2 separate regions of the Homo sapiens genome follow, and region 2 is linked to region 1. Evidence: fine-mapped expression QTL. Tissue or cell type: whole blood. Region 1 holds a variant in brackets; the other region holds the start of a gene. All regions are shown on one strand. Distances are from middle to middle.

Region 1 (8,077 bases):
CGTGAACGACAATCCCCCCACCCTGGATGTAGCCTCACTCCGGGGCATCCGTGTGGCTGAGAATGGCTCACAGCACGGCCAGGTGGCTGTGGTGGTTGCCTCGGATGTGGACACCAGTGCCCAGCTGGAGATACAGCTTGTGAACATTCTCTGCACCAAGGCCGGGGTCGATGTGGGCAGCCTATGCTGGGGCTGGTTCTCAGTGGCGGCCAACGGCTCTGTGTACATCAACCAGAGCAAAGCCATCGACTACGAGGCCTGTGACCTGGTCACGCTGGTTGTGCGGGCCTGTGACCTAGCCACGGACCCCGGCTTCCAGGCCTACAGCAACAATGGTAAGGCAGCCTGTCCTTGCAGGGCTTGGCAGGCCATAGCTTAGGGGCCGCGGGAAGGAGCCCTGGGCTGGAACTCACAAGGTCTGGGCTCAGATCTTGGCTCCAGCCCTTTCCAGCTGCAAATACTGGGAAAGTCCCAAACCCTCTCCAAGCTTCAGTTTCCCCATCTGTCCAGTGGAGTTGGGCAGTGGGGTGGGCTGTGAAGATTCAATGAGAATATGGATGTATGGCATTTATTGCAGTGCCTGGCATGCAGTAGCATCAAATTAATGCCATTATTTTACAAGATGCTGTGAAAGAAAGATAACACTGCAGAGCTAGATGTGTGCTTGTATCCCACTTCTGACACCAAATAGCAATAATAATCACATTAACAACTAGCATATATTGAGTCCTTATGACAGCCAAGAACTACACCAGGCACCTTGTAAGAATTTTTCCACTTCCACACAACCCATGGGGTAGGTGTTCCCTATCCAATTTTATAGATGAGGAAACTGAGGCAGAAAGTGGGTATTTAAACAACCAGCTTATATAGTTAGAATGTGTCAGTATAATGTCATAGGTGAGATCTACCTAGGCTGGGCCCAATCCTGGCCCACCACTATTGCTGTGTGACTTTGACAAGCTGCTTATCTGCTCTGAGGTCTGGGATGATACTCCCACCCACACAGGCCAGAGAAGACCGATCAGGCATTCTGGGTCAGGAGCAGGGAAGGGGACTGAGCATGGGGGAACACATGGGAGAGAAGCTGCGGGGCATGGGGTTGAGGCTGCGGGGCACGGGGTTGAGGCTGCGGGGCACAGGGTTGAGGCTGCGGGGCACGGGGTTGAGGCTGCGGGGCATGGGGTTGAGGCTGTGGGGCACAGGGTTGAGGCCCAGGCTCTTTGGGTCAAGCTTTTGCCCAGAGCCAAAGCCAGCTGACCTTGTCTCCTAGGAAGCCTCCTCATTACCATTGAGGACGTGAATGACAATGCACCCTATTTTCTGCCTGAGAATAAGACTTTTGGTAAGCAGCAACCCCATTCACACACCATACCCCTGCTCCATAAGGCCGCCTTTGAGCAACCCCGACAGACCCTCCTTGGACCCCAGGGGGAGCCTTTAGAAAGGGGGGAAGGCCTCTAATCCTGCATCTTCCTAGGGCTGCAATAGGAGAGGACATTGGAGTTTTCTTTTTTCTTTCCTTTTTTTCTTGAGACGGAGTCTTGCTCTGTCGCCCAGGCTGGAGCGCAATGGTACGATCTCAGCTCACTGCAACCTCCGCCTCCCAGGTTCAAGCAATTCTCATGCCTTAGCCTCCAGAGTAGCTGGGGCTACAGGCATGCGCCACCACACCTGGCTAATTTTTGTATTTTTAGTAGAGACAGGGTTTCATTGTGTTGGCCAGACTGGTCTTGAACTCCTGGCCTCAAGTGATCTGCTCGCCTTGGCCTCCCAAAGTGCTGGGATTATAGGCATGAGCCACCATGCCCAGCCAACACTGGAGTTTTCATTCCAGCTCTGTCCGACCTAATGTCTGGCCCTGGGCCAGGACTTCCCTCTCTGGGCCTCCATTTCCGCATGGTCCTGTGGGCCTGTGACCTCACCTGTGACAATGGGAGGTGGATGACTTGCTAACTACTGGCCCAGTGGTGGCTGTAATAGGGGTCTCTTTTGGTAGAGAGGTTGAGGGCAGGTTTAGGGGGATGAGCCCTGAGCTGGGCTCGTGACCAGCCTTGGTCCAGGTGGGCAGTGTCCCGACCCCGCTGACCCCGTTCCCGTTCACACCTGCAGTGATCATCCCTGAACTCGTGCTGCCCAACCGGGAGGTGGCTTCTGTCCGGGTAAGTTCTTGGCTCCAGCCTTTGTTGGTCATATGAGCCCCAGGGGACACAGGGCTGAGGCCTTCAGGCCTTCCATGGTAGAAAGAAAATATATGGGCTCCAACACATGAAAAAGAAAACCCCAGAAGGGAAACCAACACCTGTCTAATCAATGTAATCAAACTTCACTGTGATAAATGTAGCATTCATAAAAATGTCATGACCGTAAATACCACTTGCAGTCCAGATATTTCTTACTATACCAGAATTCTTGAGTAATACAGAGAACTCATAGCTAATTGTAAATTAAGCCAGTGCCTTGTCATTAAATAATTCTCAGAGCCAGCTGGGCACGGTGGCTCAAGCCTGTAATCCCAGCACTTTGGGAGGCCAAGGCAGGTGGATCACCTGAGGTCGGGAGTCTGCGACCAGCCTGACCAACATGCAGAAACCCCATCTCTACTAAAAAATACAAAATTAGCTGGGTGTGGTGGTGCATGCCTGTAATCCCAGCTACTTGGGAGGCTGAGGCAGGAGAGTCACTTGAACTCGAGAGGCGGAGGTTGCGGTGAGTCGAGATCACGCCATTGCACTCCAGCCTGGGCGACAAGAGTGAAACTCTGCCTCAAAAAAAAATAAATAAATAAATAAATTATTGGAGCCAAGTCATAAAAAGGCTTTCAGCTGTTTATGGTGTTGGATGTGGCAAGTTTATTAGGGGTGGTGGCCATGCCGTGTGGGGATGAGGCTTCCCACACCACCGAGGGCTGGGCCTGGCTGGGCTTCTTACTGACCTGGAGAGCTGCCTACCCTCTCTGGGACTCCGTTTCCCTGTTCAACAAGAAGCTAGCAGTTCCCAGAAGGTGGCATGTGGGTGCCATTCCCTATGCTTTGGAAAGGACATGGGTACAAGAGATGGACAGGGCTGGCCTTCCCCACTTAGAGCCGAGTGTAAGGACAGGGTCTCTCGGAGCCTCAGCTTCCTCTTGTAAAATGGGGATAGTAATTCTCCCTCTCTAGGTTGACGTTCATGCTAGAGACAGTGACTGTGTGACTTTCAAGTCTTAAGACAGCTTCCCAATCTTCTGCCAATTTGGTTCTAATGTCAAGAGTTTAGCCACGGCAATTTTCTTTAAATAGATTCCTTTTTAAGACCTAAGCACTGGTGTTGGCCTATCCTTAACAGTAACGTTGGTGAACTCGAAGCTCTGTGTGCTGGTTAAATTTTTCTCTAAAAGGCACTAGAATGAATAAAAATGCTTGTGTCCCCTCCCCAACCAGCTTCATGGTCTACTAGGGGAATTGGTACTCCCCGCACGGAAATGAGGGATCCCAGGGGAGGTGCTTAGGAAATCTGAGCATCGCTGTGTGTGTGCACGCCAGTGTGTGTGTGTCTAAGTGTGAATGTGTGTGCCTGAGGGTGTGTATAAGGGTGAGTGAGTGTATGTGAATGTGTGTGACAGTGTGTGGGTATGTAGGTGATTGTGGGTGTGTATGTGTGTGACTGTGCAAGTGTGTGAATGTGTGTGAATTGAGTGTATTTGTGTGAGTGTGTGTGAATTGAGTGTGTGGTGAGTGCATGAGAGAGTGAGGGTGTGAGTGTGTGTGTCAGGATAAGTGTGTGAG[T/G]GTGAGAGGGTGTGTGAGTGTATGTGAGTGTGAGAGGATAAGTGTGTGAGGGTGTGTATGAGTGTGTGCATGTGTGTGAGTGTGTTAGGGTGAGTGAGTGTATGTGTGAGTGGGACAGTGTGTGAGAGTGTGTGTGAGGGTGTGTATGAGTGTGTGTGCATATGTGTGTAAGTGTGTGTTAGGGTGAGACTGAGTGTGAGTGGGACAGTGTGTGAGAGTGTGTGTGTGTGAGAGGGTGTGTATGTGAGAGAGACTGTGTGTGTGAGTGTGTGTGTGTGAGAGAGAGAGAGAGTATGGCAGTGGAGGGGTGTAGGGGGAGCAGGGCAGGATTTCCACATGTGAGGGACTTAGGGCAGTGATCTGTTTGGAGTTGGGGAACAGGGGCAGGTTCTTGTCCAAATCTGGATTTGCAGAGCAGACACACTGTTTTTTGAAACCATTTGCTTATTCGGGGCAGCGTGGGGATGGCGGATAGAGACGGTGAGGGCCAGCCTCCCAGGCCACCCTTGCCTCTGATCCCTGCTGGGGTGGAGGGATGCCTGGCCTGGCTGGGCCCCCAGATATTGTCCACTCTTGCTCCCAGGCCAGAGACGATGATTCAGGGAACAATGGCGTCATCCTGTTCTCCATCCTCCGAGTAGACTTCATCTCTAAGGACGGGGCCACCATCCCTTTCCAGGGTGTCTTCTCGATCTTCACCTCCTCCGAGGCCGACGTGTTCGCTGGGAGCATTCAGTAACTGCGGGCGGCCCCGGGAGGGAGGTTGCGGGGAGGGGCCCGATAGGAGCTTTCAGGCAGCAAGTCCCCCATCCTGGAGGTTACAAGGGTCCTGAGGATTCAGCTTGGGTTCCAAGACTGACCTGCGCCTCCCGCCTTCCGCAGGCCGGTGACCAGCCTCGACTCCACTCTCCAAGGCACCTACCAAGTGACAGTCCAGGCCAGGGACAGACCTTCCTTGGGTCCTTTCCTGGAAGCCACCACCACCCTGAATGTGAGTGCTGGTCCCACCTCCAGCCCCCAACGCCCTCTGCCAGCCCCCAGGGTCCCTGGTGCCTCATCTCCTGCACACCCCCTTCCCAGCTCTTCACCGTGGACCAGAGTTACCGCTCGCGGCTGCAGTTCTCCACACCGAAGGAGGAGGTGGGCGCCAACAGACAGGCGATTAATGCGTAGGTCTGGGGAGCCCCGGAGGGAGGGGTAGGAAGAACAGGGTGTAGGAGCCTGGTCCCCGACAAAACCTGGATGGGATGTCTCTCAATCCTGTTCCTGACCCACATTTGACCTTGTCCCTGTCTTCAACCCTGTACTTTCACCTGCACGACGTTCTTGCATGTCCCCAGAAGCCCATACCCAGCCAAGGGCAGAGGGAAGCCTTGGAACAAGGCTGCCGTGTACAGTTGTGAAGGCTGTGTGTTGCACAAGGGCACTCTGCTTGCTAAGCTATTCACCCAGCCCCAGAGGAAGGGATTTCCTTTTGTAATTTTCACAGAGATGCTACCTACTCAGCCAACAGAGCTGTCCAGAGGAGGTGCCCTTTCTCACTCATACAATTCTTAATCCCACTGGCACAGCCCTGGCCACAGGCCCAGGCTAAGACCCCAGGCCTCTGTGACATCTGCCTTCTTTGCAGGGCTCTTACCCAGGCAACCAGGACTACAGTATACATTGTGGACATTCAGGACATAGATTCTGCAGCTCGGTGAGTGCCCAGAGGCCTGGGGGTGGGGTTGAGGGGGAGAAGCGGTAGCAGGAGGGGCCTGCTGGGTGATCCAGGCTCCTGACTCTTCAACTCTGTCCCGCTCCAGGGCCCGACCTCACTCCTACCTCGATGCCTACTTTGTCTTCCCCAATGGGTCAGCCCTGACCCTTGATGAGCTGAGTGTGTGAGTGGGGCTGCCCTTGGGGCAGGTGTGAGGGTGAGCAGGAAGCCTGGGGTGTGCCAAGGTCCCTCGGGCCTAAGTGGAGTTCTGTGGCCAGGATGATCCGGAATGATCAGGACTCGCTGACGCAGCTGCTGCAGCTGGGGCTGGTGGTGCTGGTGAGTGCGGGCAGGGCGGGGCAGCAGGTGGGGCTGCTGAAGACGAGTGTGCTTCCCTCACACTCATCTTTCTCCAGGGCTCCCAGGAGAGCCAGGAGTCAGACCTGTCGAAACAGCTCATCAGTGTCATCATAGGATTGGGAGTGGCTTTGCTGCTGGTCCTTGTGATCATGACCATGGCCTTCGTGTGTGTGCGGAAGAGGTGCGGCTCCCATTGCCCCCGTGTCTCCAACCTTCACCCTCTCCCACCACCCAAGACGTCGGGGGGTAGGGGTAGAAGGAGCTGGGGCTTAGGCACAGGTATACATGCATTCACTCCCCAGTGACCCAGTGCGAGATCTTGGGTGAGTCACCTCCCCTCCACGGGCCTCAGTTTCCTTATCTGTGAAAGGGCATGAGACTTGATTCCTCAGTGCACTCAAGGAAGTAACATGCATCTCACACCCAGCTAGACGTCTGGCACACACTATGCGTTTAATAGATGCTGCTGCTTTTTCCAACATGTATAGAGTCAGCAGCCGTATCTGGGCTTGACTTCAAGCCTTGTCACTGGCTATTTGACCTTTGGCAAATCACTTGCCTTCTCTGGCTCTTACTTCTACCCTCTGTAAAATAGAGCTAACACTCACCTCCCGGGATCTTGTGAAGCCACAGGCTCAGGGCCTCCACTGGGGACACAACAGGTGTGCAGCAACAGTGTGACCCCTCTTCCGGTTCCCCACAGCTACAACCGGAAGCTTCAAGCTATGAAGGCTGCCAAGGAGGCCAGGAAGACAGCAGCAGGGGTGATGCCCTCAGCCCCTGCCATCCCAGGGACTAACATGTACAACACTGAGCGGTGAGCAGGGGTCAAAGGGTAGGTAAGAGGCCTGGTGGGGTGGCTGAGGGCCAGGCAACTTGACCAGGCTTTCTCTCCAGAGCCAACCCCATGCTGAACCTCCCCAACAAAGACCTGGGCTTGGAGTACCTCTCTCCCTCCAATGACCTGGACTCTGTCAGGTGAGCAGTGCCCCTCACAGCCAGGCTAGGTGGTGGTGGTGGTACAGGTAGTGACGGTGGTGGTGGTGATGGTGTTGGTGGTGATGATGGTGATGACAATGGTGATGGTGTGGTCATGGTAGTAGTGGTAGTTATGGTGGTGGTGGTGATGGTAGTGAGGTGATGGTGATGGTAGCAATGGTGACAGTGGTGATGATGACAACAATGATGGTGGTGATGATGGTGTTGGTGTTGAGGTGATGGTGATGGTTGTGATGGTGATGGTGGTGATGATGGTGATGATGACGATGGTGGTGGTGGTGGTGGTGTTGGTGTTGAGGTGATGGTGATGGTTGTGATGGTGATGGTGGTGATGATGGTGTTGGTGTTGAGGTGATGGTGATGGTTGTGATGGTGATGGTGGTGATGATGGTGTTGGTGTTGAGGTGATGGTGATGGTTGTGATGGTGATGGTGGTGATGATGGTGATGATGACGGTGGTGGTGGTGGTGGTGTTGGTGTTGAGGTGATGGTGGTGATGGTAGTGGTGGTGGGTGATGGTGGTGGCAATGGTGATGGTGGTGGTCATGGTGGTCATGGTAGTGGTGGCAGTTATCGTGGTGGTGGTGGTGATGGTGGTGGTGATGGTGATGGTAGTGATGGTGATGGTGGTGATGATGGTGATGATGACAATGATGATGGTGGTGGTGGTGTTGGTGTTGAGGTGATGATGGTGCTGATGGTGATGGTGGTGATGATGGTGATGATGACAATGATGATGGTGGTGGTGGTGTTGGTGTTGAGGTGATGATGGTGGTGATGGTGATGGTGGTGATGGTGATGGTGGTGGTGGTGGTGTTGGTGTTGAGGTGATGGTGGTGATGGTGATGGTAGTGATGGTGATGGTGGTGGTGATGGTTATGATGATGATGGTGGTGGTGGTGTTGGTGTTGAGGTGATGGTGATGGTGGTGATGATGGATGATGACGGTGGTGGTGGTGGTGTTGGTGTTGAGGTGATGGTGATGGTGGTGGTGATAGTGATTATGATGATAGTGGTGGTGGTGGTGTTGGTGTTGAGGTGATGGTGATGGTGCTGATGGTAGTGATGATGGTAGTTGTGATGATGGTGGTGGTGGTGATGGTGATGATGGTGGTAGTCGTGGTGATGGTGATGGTGGTGATGGAGGTGGTGGTTCTTGGGCACAGTAAGGGAGGACTGGGCCTGCCAACACCTGAGCTCCATCACCTCTCTTACAGCGTCAACTCCCTGGACGACAACTCTGTGGATGTGG
Region 2 (8,073 bases), 59 kb after region 1:
GCCCCGGGGGTGGACTTGGCTCTCTGCTTCCTCCTGGCTGCCTCCCCCTTCCCCTACCAGGTGGGCTCTGTGGTTCTTCAAGAATGACCGCAGCCGGGCCTGGCAGGACAACCTGCACCTGGTCACCAAGGTGGACACTGTGGAGGACTTCTGGGCGTGAGTGTCTGTCCCCAGTGGGGCTAGAGTTGGGGGGCTCTGAGCTCTGGGCTCCCTCTCTCCGGGTTGAGCCAGCCCTCCCTAGGGCCTTTCAGCCTTTGTGAGGGCTGGGGCTTTGTGGGTTCTGCCCAGGGGGTATAGGGCACAACCACCCCCCACCCCACCACCTTCTTTGGGCTCAGGGAGAGAGCCTGGGGAGCAGGAGAAGCAGGAAGCTGACCTTGACTCGGCCACTCCAGGGCTTTGTGACCTGGGCAAGTTCCTTCCCCTCTCTGAACCTGTCTCAGCTGCAAAGGGAGGACTCGGCTGCCTCAGTGTCCGGGTGCTCACGGGAGTGGCTCTGAAAAGGGCTACACAAGCCCTAGGGAGGGTGAGAAGGCCTCGGCTGTAGCTGGAGGGGGGAGCACCAGGGGGTCTAAAACCCTCCCCAGGGGTTGGCTCAGCCTTCACTGGGAAGGCTCTGTGGAAAAGGTGGGTCTTGAGAGTTTGGATAAACGGGAGTGGAATCCCAGGTGGCAGGCCAGTGTAAGCAAAGGCTTGGAGGCCATGGGGTCGGATGAGGAGTTGGGAGGGCTGAACCCAGTTGGAACCAGGCCCTAAAAAGCCTTGACTTTTGGCATGGGGTCGGGGGCTCTGTCCAGGCTATACAGTCACATCCAGCTGGCCAGCAAGCTCTCCTCTGGCTGTGACTACGCCCTCTTCAAGGTAAGCTCTGCTCTCCTCTTTCCCTCCCGCAAAGGGACAAGGGGTTGATCCCTCCCGGACTCCACTGCGTTAATCCCTCAGAGGGGTGGGGGTGGGGAGCTACGGGCCACCTCTCAGCAGAGTTGTGGTTTCTGACTGGAGGAAATGCTCTACAGGAGCCCGGACAGAGTAGGTCAGGCCCAAGCCGCACCTTGGAGGACCTTAAGAGGCGGGAAGAGGGAGAGGGAGAGATTTCTGACCTGGCTCCTTAACTAGGGAAGGGCATCAGAATTGCTTGAGGACACTCATTGATGCCACACCCATCCCTGGAGGGCTGACATTGTGTTTAGAGATCTCCCCAGTGACTTCTGCCCTGCCTGGGAACCATGCAGCCAAGCCTGGGATGTCCCCCTTGCCTGCATTGGGGTCTGCCCCTGAGGCTTCCTTAATCCACCCCGATTTGAATGCTTGTCTTAAGGAACTCAGTAAAAGAGACATGCACATATACAAGGCTATACAAGGTGACCAGTGCTGTCTGTCGGGGGGAGCTGAGTGGCTGGGGGTGGAACCTGCTTGCACTGAGGGAAGGGAGGATAAGAGAATCTGGCCTACTTAGGGCCTCAGCAGAGAGCGGATAAGGCCGGGATGGTGGGTGGGTCCCCATTTCCCTTTGAACACAGGGAGGCAGTTGACTTGCCATCTGCCTTGCAGGATGGCATCCAGCCCATGTGGGAGGACAGCAGGAATAAACGGGGTGGCCGCTGGCTGGTCAGCCTGGCCAAGCAGCAGCGCCACATTGAGCTGGACCGGCTGTGGCTGGAGACGGTGAGTTGGAGGAGGAGGGTCCTCAGGGGAAGAGACGGGCTGTGTGGGTCTCATGGTGGCAGTGGTCTCAAGGATGGCAGGCCAGTCCCTATGTCCCAGCCGGTGATCTCACAACCCCCTACTTCGGGTCCAGCTGCTGTGTCTGATCGGGGAGAGCTTTGAGGAACACAGCAGAGAGGTATGTGGGGCCGTCGTCAACATCCGCACCAAGGGGGACAAGATCGCTGTGTGGACGAGGGAGGCGGAAAACCAGGCGGGCGTGCTGCACGTTGGGTGAGGAGGGTCTCTGGCACAGGGTGGGGACTTGGGTCTCTGCTAGAGGGAAGGTGGGTGGAGGGGGCTTGGCCTGCATGGGAGACCTCTGAAAGTCTCCATAGCCTCCCTCCCTTCTGCCTTGCCCACCTGTATGGAAGGTCTGGCGTTCAGATTTCTAACTTTCTCTTACGGCAGTGCAGCTCTCCTTTTGCATTAAGGGGGTCATATTTTGGGTTTCCACATGGGTAAGACACAACAGGTGTGGCTGTGGCCAGAATGAGGGTAGGAGTCTGGTGGCCTAAGTTATCTCTAGGACCCTCTGATGACTACCTGTGTCTCTTTTCCTCTGTGTCCCCCGCACCTGCAGGCGTGTATACAAAGAGCGCCTGGGCCTCTCCCCAAAGACCATCATTGGGTACCAGGCCCATGCAGACACAGCCACCAAGAGCAACTCCCTAGCCAAGAACAAGTTTGTGGTGTGAGGGGGGCCTTGGCACCCCTCCTATGTAATGGGACAGCCGCCACTGAGCCTCATTACTTTGGGGGATGGGGCGGGACTGGGGATCAGACAGCCTAGTTCTTACCTGTCCTCAAGTGAACAGGAATGCAAACACTCTTTAACATGAGTTGGGGCCTGAGCCTTAGGGGCTAGATGGGGGTAGTGGTGGCAGTCTGAGGACCTAGCTTGTCCTGGGGCCACAGGACAGCAGCAGGGTGGAAAAAACTCCTGAGGGTGGGGTGAGTCATGGCGGGGAAGGAGGGCTCTATGGTAGGCGGAGAAACCCATAGTCCAGCGTTTACTGTTTCCACCCAGGAAGGAGGTGAGGTGGCCTGAGAGACAGACTCTTCCATGGGTGGTGGGCTCAAGGGCACAGACATTCTGGAGGGTGAACGCCATCATTTGTACAGAGGGATACGTGGGTTGCTGAGGACTGAGAGAGCCTTGCAAGGCCGCTCCCCTTCTCCCCAGCTGTGACCAGGGCTGTCTGGGCCTTGCCTGCCTCAGGGCCAGACTGAAGTGGAGGTGGAGGGATGCTGGGCTAGGCCTCACCAAGGTTCTGGTAGAAGTGGTGGAAGTGGATAAACTTGATAATAAAAGCTTAAGCATCTTTCTGTTCCTGTTTTAAATAAATACTTCTGAACAAAGTTGGAATTATTTTTAAGAGGGCTTCAAACTGGAGTAAGATTCAGGTTCCCCCAAACTTTGATCTGCCTCTGTCCTGTCTTACAGGGGCTCATGTGAGATCACTGGGTACCAAGGAGCCTGACCGGGACCCTGGCCAGTATGGAGGACAGGGGGTGTGGCTGGGGAAACTCAGCCACCAAGGGGGCTTGAGCCAGGTTCCGGGGGGCATATGCCCCTGGCAGGGCGCAGCCGGCGTGGCACCAAGGCCCAGGCCCTCGTTTGGCCTGAGTTTGAGTCAGGATAAGTAGAGCTGGATTTCCGCTGGGTGAAGGTGAGCCTGATGCGACTCCACAATGACAAAACGTCCTGCACGTGTTAAAAACTCAATCCGGACCAGCTTCCCCATTCGCCTGCCAGAGCAGCAGTTAACCTTCCCCTGGGATGGGCTCCAACAGCAGGCTGGGGATTGGGATGGCGCTGGTACCCAGCAGGGGAAGCAAGGCTTCTACACCCCGGCGGCCTCCGGCGCCATCAGCCGGCGTCCCGGGCGGGTCTGCAGGACGCTGGGAAACGCGGCGGCGGCCTGCGCGGGGGCGGGGCCTGGCCGAAGGCGGGGCTGCGAGGAGGTCCGAATCAGGCTGTGGGGGCGGAGCTCGGGAAGCGGAGCCAGGTCCAGAGGCGGGGCTCAGGCGGGACTGAGTTGATCTATGGGGGCGGAGCCAGGTCAGGAGGCGGGACTCCAAAGGGACTGAGGGCTGTGGGGGCGGGGCCCGGTCCAGAGGCGGGGACAGCAGGGCTCCGGGCAAGGAGGTCTGGATGCTGAGGGCGGTCCCTGAGGGGCGGGCGGGGCCCGACCGGCGCTCTGTGTGGCCGAGGCCATGAAGCCGCAGCCGCCCGGCTAGGCCCCGGGCGGCTCTAGCCCAGGGCGGCCCGCGGGGCGCTGGGCCTGGCTCCCGGCTCCGGTTTCCGGGCCGGCGGGTGGCCGCTCACCATGCCCGGCAAGCACCAGCATTTCCAGGAACCTGAGGTCGGCTGCTGCGGGAAATACTTCCTGTTTGGCTTCAACATTGTCTTCTGGGTGAGCGCGGGGTCTGCGCCTTGCCCTGTGCTGGGGGGTGGTGGGAGAGGGAGATTCAGTCTTTTGCTGGGGGAGACCACTCCCTGCCCCAAGAGTTTGGAGCTCGGGACCATCCCCCCACTTCTGCCACACCCACGCCCACTTCCAGGACCACCCGAGGTAGCTACAGAGGCCCGGATTGCTGGGGGCGGGTCCTAGCGACAGCGTGGGGTCGGGGTTGGGGTAGGGAGTCTCCCTAAATAATCCCGAGGCCTGGTGGAGAAAGGGAAGGTGTTTCCTTGAAGACCCCAGGGGCGTGCTAGGTGCAGGTTGCCCCCTCTCGCCCAGCCCTCCTTCCTACCCTGGGATGTGGGATGCGTGCCAAGCCCCACCCCTGGTTTAGCCGGTAAGGAGATTCTGGCGTGAAGGGAGCCGCCAGGCCCCTTCCCCGGCCTCCTTTCCCTTCCAGTAGTACCTGGGTCAGGTGCCTCACCTTAGGCTCCTGCAGAGTGGGGTGGGTCACAGTCCTCTGCCCACCCCAGTCCCGCACAAGGAGGCTGACCTGCCAGGAGGGGCAGGGAGGGACAATGGCGAGTCCTTGGCGGCTGGGAGAGGATCTCCCCGGTTGAGAGCCTGGGAGCTGGCCTTGGGGAACAGAATTCAACATTCCACAGCTGACAAGCTGAGGCTCCTGGGCGGGTCTGCCCCTACCGGGGAAGGGAGCTACTAGTGCCCCTCCCAGGGTGGCATCTGTCCCCCTGGGCCCTGCCAGGTCATTTTTCCCATCTCTCCAAAGCCGTGGCCCTCTGCAGTCTCTGCTCCTGAGGCCTTGGGTCAAGATGCCAGGCCTTTTCCCTTGTGTTCAGCAAGACTCAGTGGCACTGCCCCCCACCCACGTGTCACCGAGCTCACTGGTGTGGTGGGTGTCCTTGCACTGCAGCGCTAGGCTCTTGAGGGTGTGGGCAGTGTGTGGGAGCACTGGCAAAGAAGTCAGAAGGCCTGGCTGTAGCAGGCCTGGCTGGGACACCTTGGGCAAGTCATCTCTCCTCTCCGGGCCTCAGCTTGCCTGCCTGGGAGACGACGATAAAGAATCTGCCTGTGAGGGCTGTTAGGCAGATACAATGAGTTCAATTTGTTGTATTCTCACAACTGCCTTATTATCTGCATTTTACAGATGGGGAAACTGAAGGAATAGACACAGAGAAATTAAGTCACTTACCTAGGGTCACACAGCCAGAAAGTACAGAGCCAAGGTGACGGCTTAGTGGGCAGAGGGTGGAGGTGAGGCAGAGCTGTGAGCAGAAGTAACCTCAAATACCGAGGGGGAGCAGGCGTGAGAGACCCGGGTTTGTTGCTGGGGCGGAGCGTGGGGTGTTATGTTAAGGTGGCATGGAGAAGCGAGGGCTTCCAGTGATGGGTCTGATCTGGCTTCTGTTCTGGAGACCGCTTGCCTGGCTGCTGTGTGGAGGGTGGATGAGGGGCAGGGCCTGGAGGTTTGGAATGGGGGCAGGGCTGGGGCAAAGCTGGGATGGTGAGGTGGGAAAGGTGAGGGAGGTTGCTGGGAAAGTCAAGAGGCTGAATTGACTGGGCTGGGTCACTTGGGGGCTGGAGGGAGGATTTCAGATTTGGGTTAAGGTGGCCTAAGGGAGGCTGCTTGTGGAACAGGCACAGAGGTTTTCATGTTTAATGTCAGGCAGACCCTGGTGTTGTTCTGTTTGGAAACTGCTTGTGGTTTCCTTTTTTCTTTTTTCTTTTTTTTTTTTGAGACAGAGTTTTGCTCTTGTTGCCCAGGCTGGAGTGCAATGGCACGATCTCGGTTCACTGCAACCTCCGTCTCCCAGGTTCAAGCGATTCTCCTGCCTCAGCCTCCCAAGTAGCTGGGACTATAGGTGTGTGCCACCACGCCTGGCTAATTTTGTATTTTTACTAGAGATGGGGTTTCTTCATGTTGGTCAGGCTGGTCTCGAACTCCTGACCTCAGGTGATCCACCTGCCTTGGCCTCCCAAAGTGCTGGGATTACAGGCGTGAGCCACCACGCCCGGCCATCCTGCTCGTGGTTTCTTACTGCTCCTAGAGTACTGTCGGCCTCCAGGGCCCCGCGGGGCCGGGCTGTCCGCCCTTCAGTTTGTTCCTTGAACTAGACGTGGTCTTGTGTCAGGGCCTCTGCCTGTGCCCTACCCTCCTCCTGGAACAGGCTTTTCCCTCTTGCTCTTTTCATCATTCAAACCTCAGCTGAAATGCCCCCACCCTCCCTTCTGCCCTCTCTAAAGCTGGCGTCCAACCCCAGCATCCCCCATCTCGTCGCCCCGCTCGATATTTGTTAAGGGGTCTGTTTGCATCTGAGGTTTCCTTGTCTGCTCACTGACTGTCCATCTCCCCTGCTGGAGTGTAAGCTCCGTGAGGGTCGAGTCCGTCCTATTCACCAGCGAATCCCCGGCATGGCGGCGATCAGTGCCGGTGGGTCGTGGAGGTGTTTGCTGCAGGCGGGTGGACGTAGGGGTGTGGGACCAGCATGAGGTCTGGGTGGGGATCGGGAGATGCCAGCGTCATGATGGGATGGAAGACGAGCGTGAGGAGGAAGAACGGCAGAAGGCTGAGGCTGGAGGCCGTGGGACCAGCCACAGGTGGTCCCTCCAGGAACACAGCCCTCCAGGAACTCCTGCTGGAGGCTGAGAGCTCACTTCCCAGCTGTTTTCCCAAAGTGCTTTAATTGTATTTCCTTGGCTCTGATTGGCTGCCTCTGGACCAATCCCCGGGGCAGGTGAAGGCGGAGCATCCTGGGAAGGAGCTCGGGGAGGAATGGGGTTGAGTTAACTGAGGTGGGGTTCAGGAAGGAGAAAGTGGCACTCAGTCCCCTGTCTGAAGGCCAAGGGCAGGCCAAGTGGGAGGAGGCAGGAGAAGTGATGTTTGGTTTCACATCAGCAGACCCAGCAGGCAGGAGGGAAGGGAAGATGTTTCCAGAGAAAGAATAGAGCAGTGTGGGGAGCCCACGGTCAGGGAAGGGAAGGTGATAAAGGCCTTGGCCGTGGCTATGTGCTGAGGGGAAGGAGCCTGCAGATAAAGCAGGTGGGTGGGGAGGTCGCAGGAGGTGGGGTCATGGCCCTGGGCTTGGGTACGACAGCCTTTCCCCCTCTGAGACTGCACGCCCAGGGACCTGCCCAGGGTCAGGTGTGAGAGTGACCAGCCTGGACATCCAGGGCTCTTCCCAGTAGGGAATTGAGGCAGGAAGGTGGGAAAGCTGAGGATGGAGGAGAGGCACTTGGACTGCCCCGGTGGGGAGTCTAGCTGGTGTTCTGAAGGCCCAGGCAGAGCTGTGGCCATGGGGCAAAGCCACTGGCACAGGCCAGATCCTAGGTGGATCCTGCTAGGGATGATTGAGATTCCTGTCATTCAGGGGTGTCTGGTCGTGAGCCGTGGAAGCTGACTCTGGCAGGCGGAGGTTAAAGGGGTAGGATGGGGCTGGGCTGGGGAGGAGTGTTGAGGGCGGGGCCGCAGTCACACGGCTTTAGGGTAGCAGGAGAGCTGGACTTGGCAGGGTGCAGAAAGGAGGCTAGGAGCCTGGAACCCCAGCACCAGCTTCGGTCAGGTGTAGAGGCTCAGTATACTGGCGCCGTCGCTACCCCCGCTGACACAGCTGCTATTGCTCCTTGGCAGGAGTGTCTTGGCCACCGTCTGCTCCAATTTGGAGTTCCAGGAAGGGGCCCCTGATGTCCATCCCAAGGCTAGCAGAGGGTTCAGTCCTCCAGGCTGTGTCCTGTGGGGAAGAAGCACTGGGATGTGTTCTTGGGAAGATGGAAAGGACCCCGGATCCCGTTCACAGCCCTTGTGCCTCTTCCTCTCTCCGCTGGAAAGGCCCTGGCTACCGGGGAAGGATGAGGGGGGAGGGTCCTGGGGCTGCTCCCAGCCCTGAGCTCTTTGTTGCTGCCCTTGCAGGTGCTGGGAGCCCTGTTCCTGGCTATCGGCCTCTGG

Evidence for each region. PIP is the estimated chance that this variant, and not a neighbour inherited with it, causes the effect.
Region 2: it holds the start of TSPAN17, and the variant in region 1 is fine-mapped to the expression of TSPAN17 in whole blood (TOPMed, PIP above 0.99).

What each region holds. Positions count from the first base shown.
Region 1 is chr5:176,584,681-176,592,757 of GRCh38, forward strand. CDHR2 (cadherin related family member 2) reads left to right here. Exons shown (of 32, transcript NM_017675.6): 19 at 1-335; 20 at 1,274-1,345; 21 at 2,113-2,162; 22 at 4,351-4,502; 23 at 4,650-4,758; 24 at 4,848-4,936; 25 at 5,398-5,466; 26 at 5,573-5,650; 27 at 5,745-5,805; 28 at 5,883-6,007; 29 at 6,530-6,643; 30 at 6,724-6,804; 31 at 8,043-8,077. Among named protein-coding and RNA genes, the nearest start is that of GPRIN1, 21 kb to the right of the region's middle. The variant T/G (reference allele first, on the strand shown) is at 3,768.
Region 2 is chr5:176,643,579-176,651,651 of GRCh38, forward strand. It overlaps TSPAN17 (tetraspanin 17), which reads left to right and starts at 3,906. Exons shown (of 9, transcript NM_130465.5): 1 at 3,906-4,124; 2 at 8,038-8,073. The coding sequence starts at 4,038. It overlaps EIF4E1B (eukaryotic translation initiation factor 4E family member 1B), which reads left to right. Exons shown (of 9, transcript NM_001099408.2): 5 at 61-156; 6 at 798-861; 7 at 1,552-1,665; 8 at 1,799-1,938; 9 at 2,288-3,066. The coding sequence ends at 2,402. RefSeq lists enhancers at 1-507, 508-1,147, 1,729-2,239, 2,510-2,804, 5,166-6,035 and 1 more and a silencer at 3,478-4,137.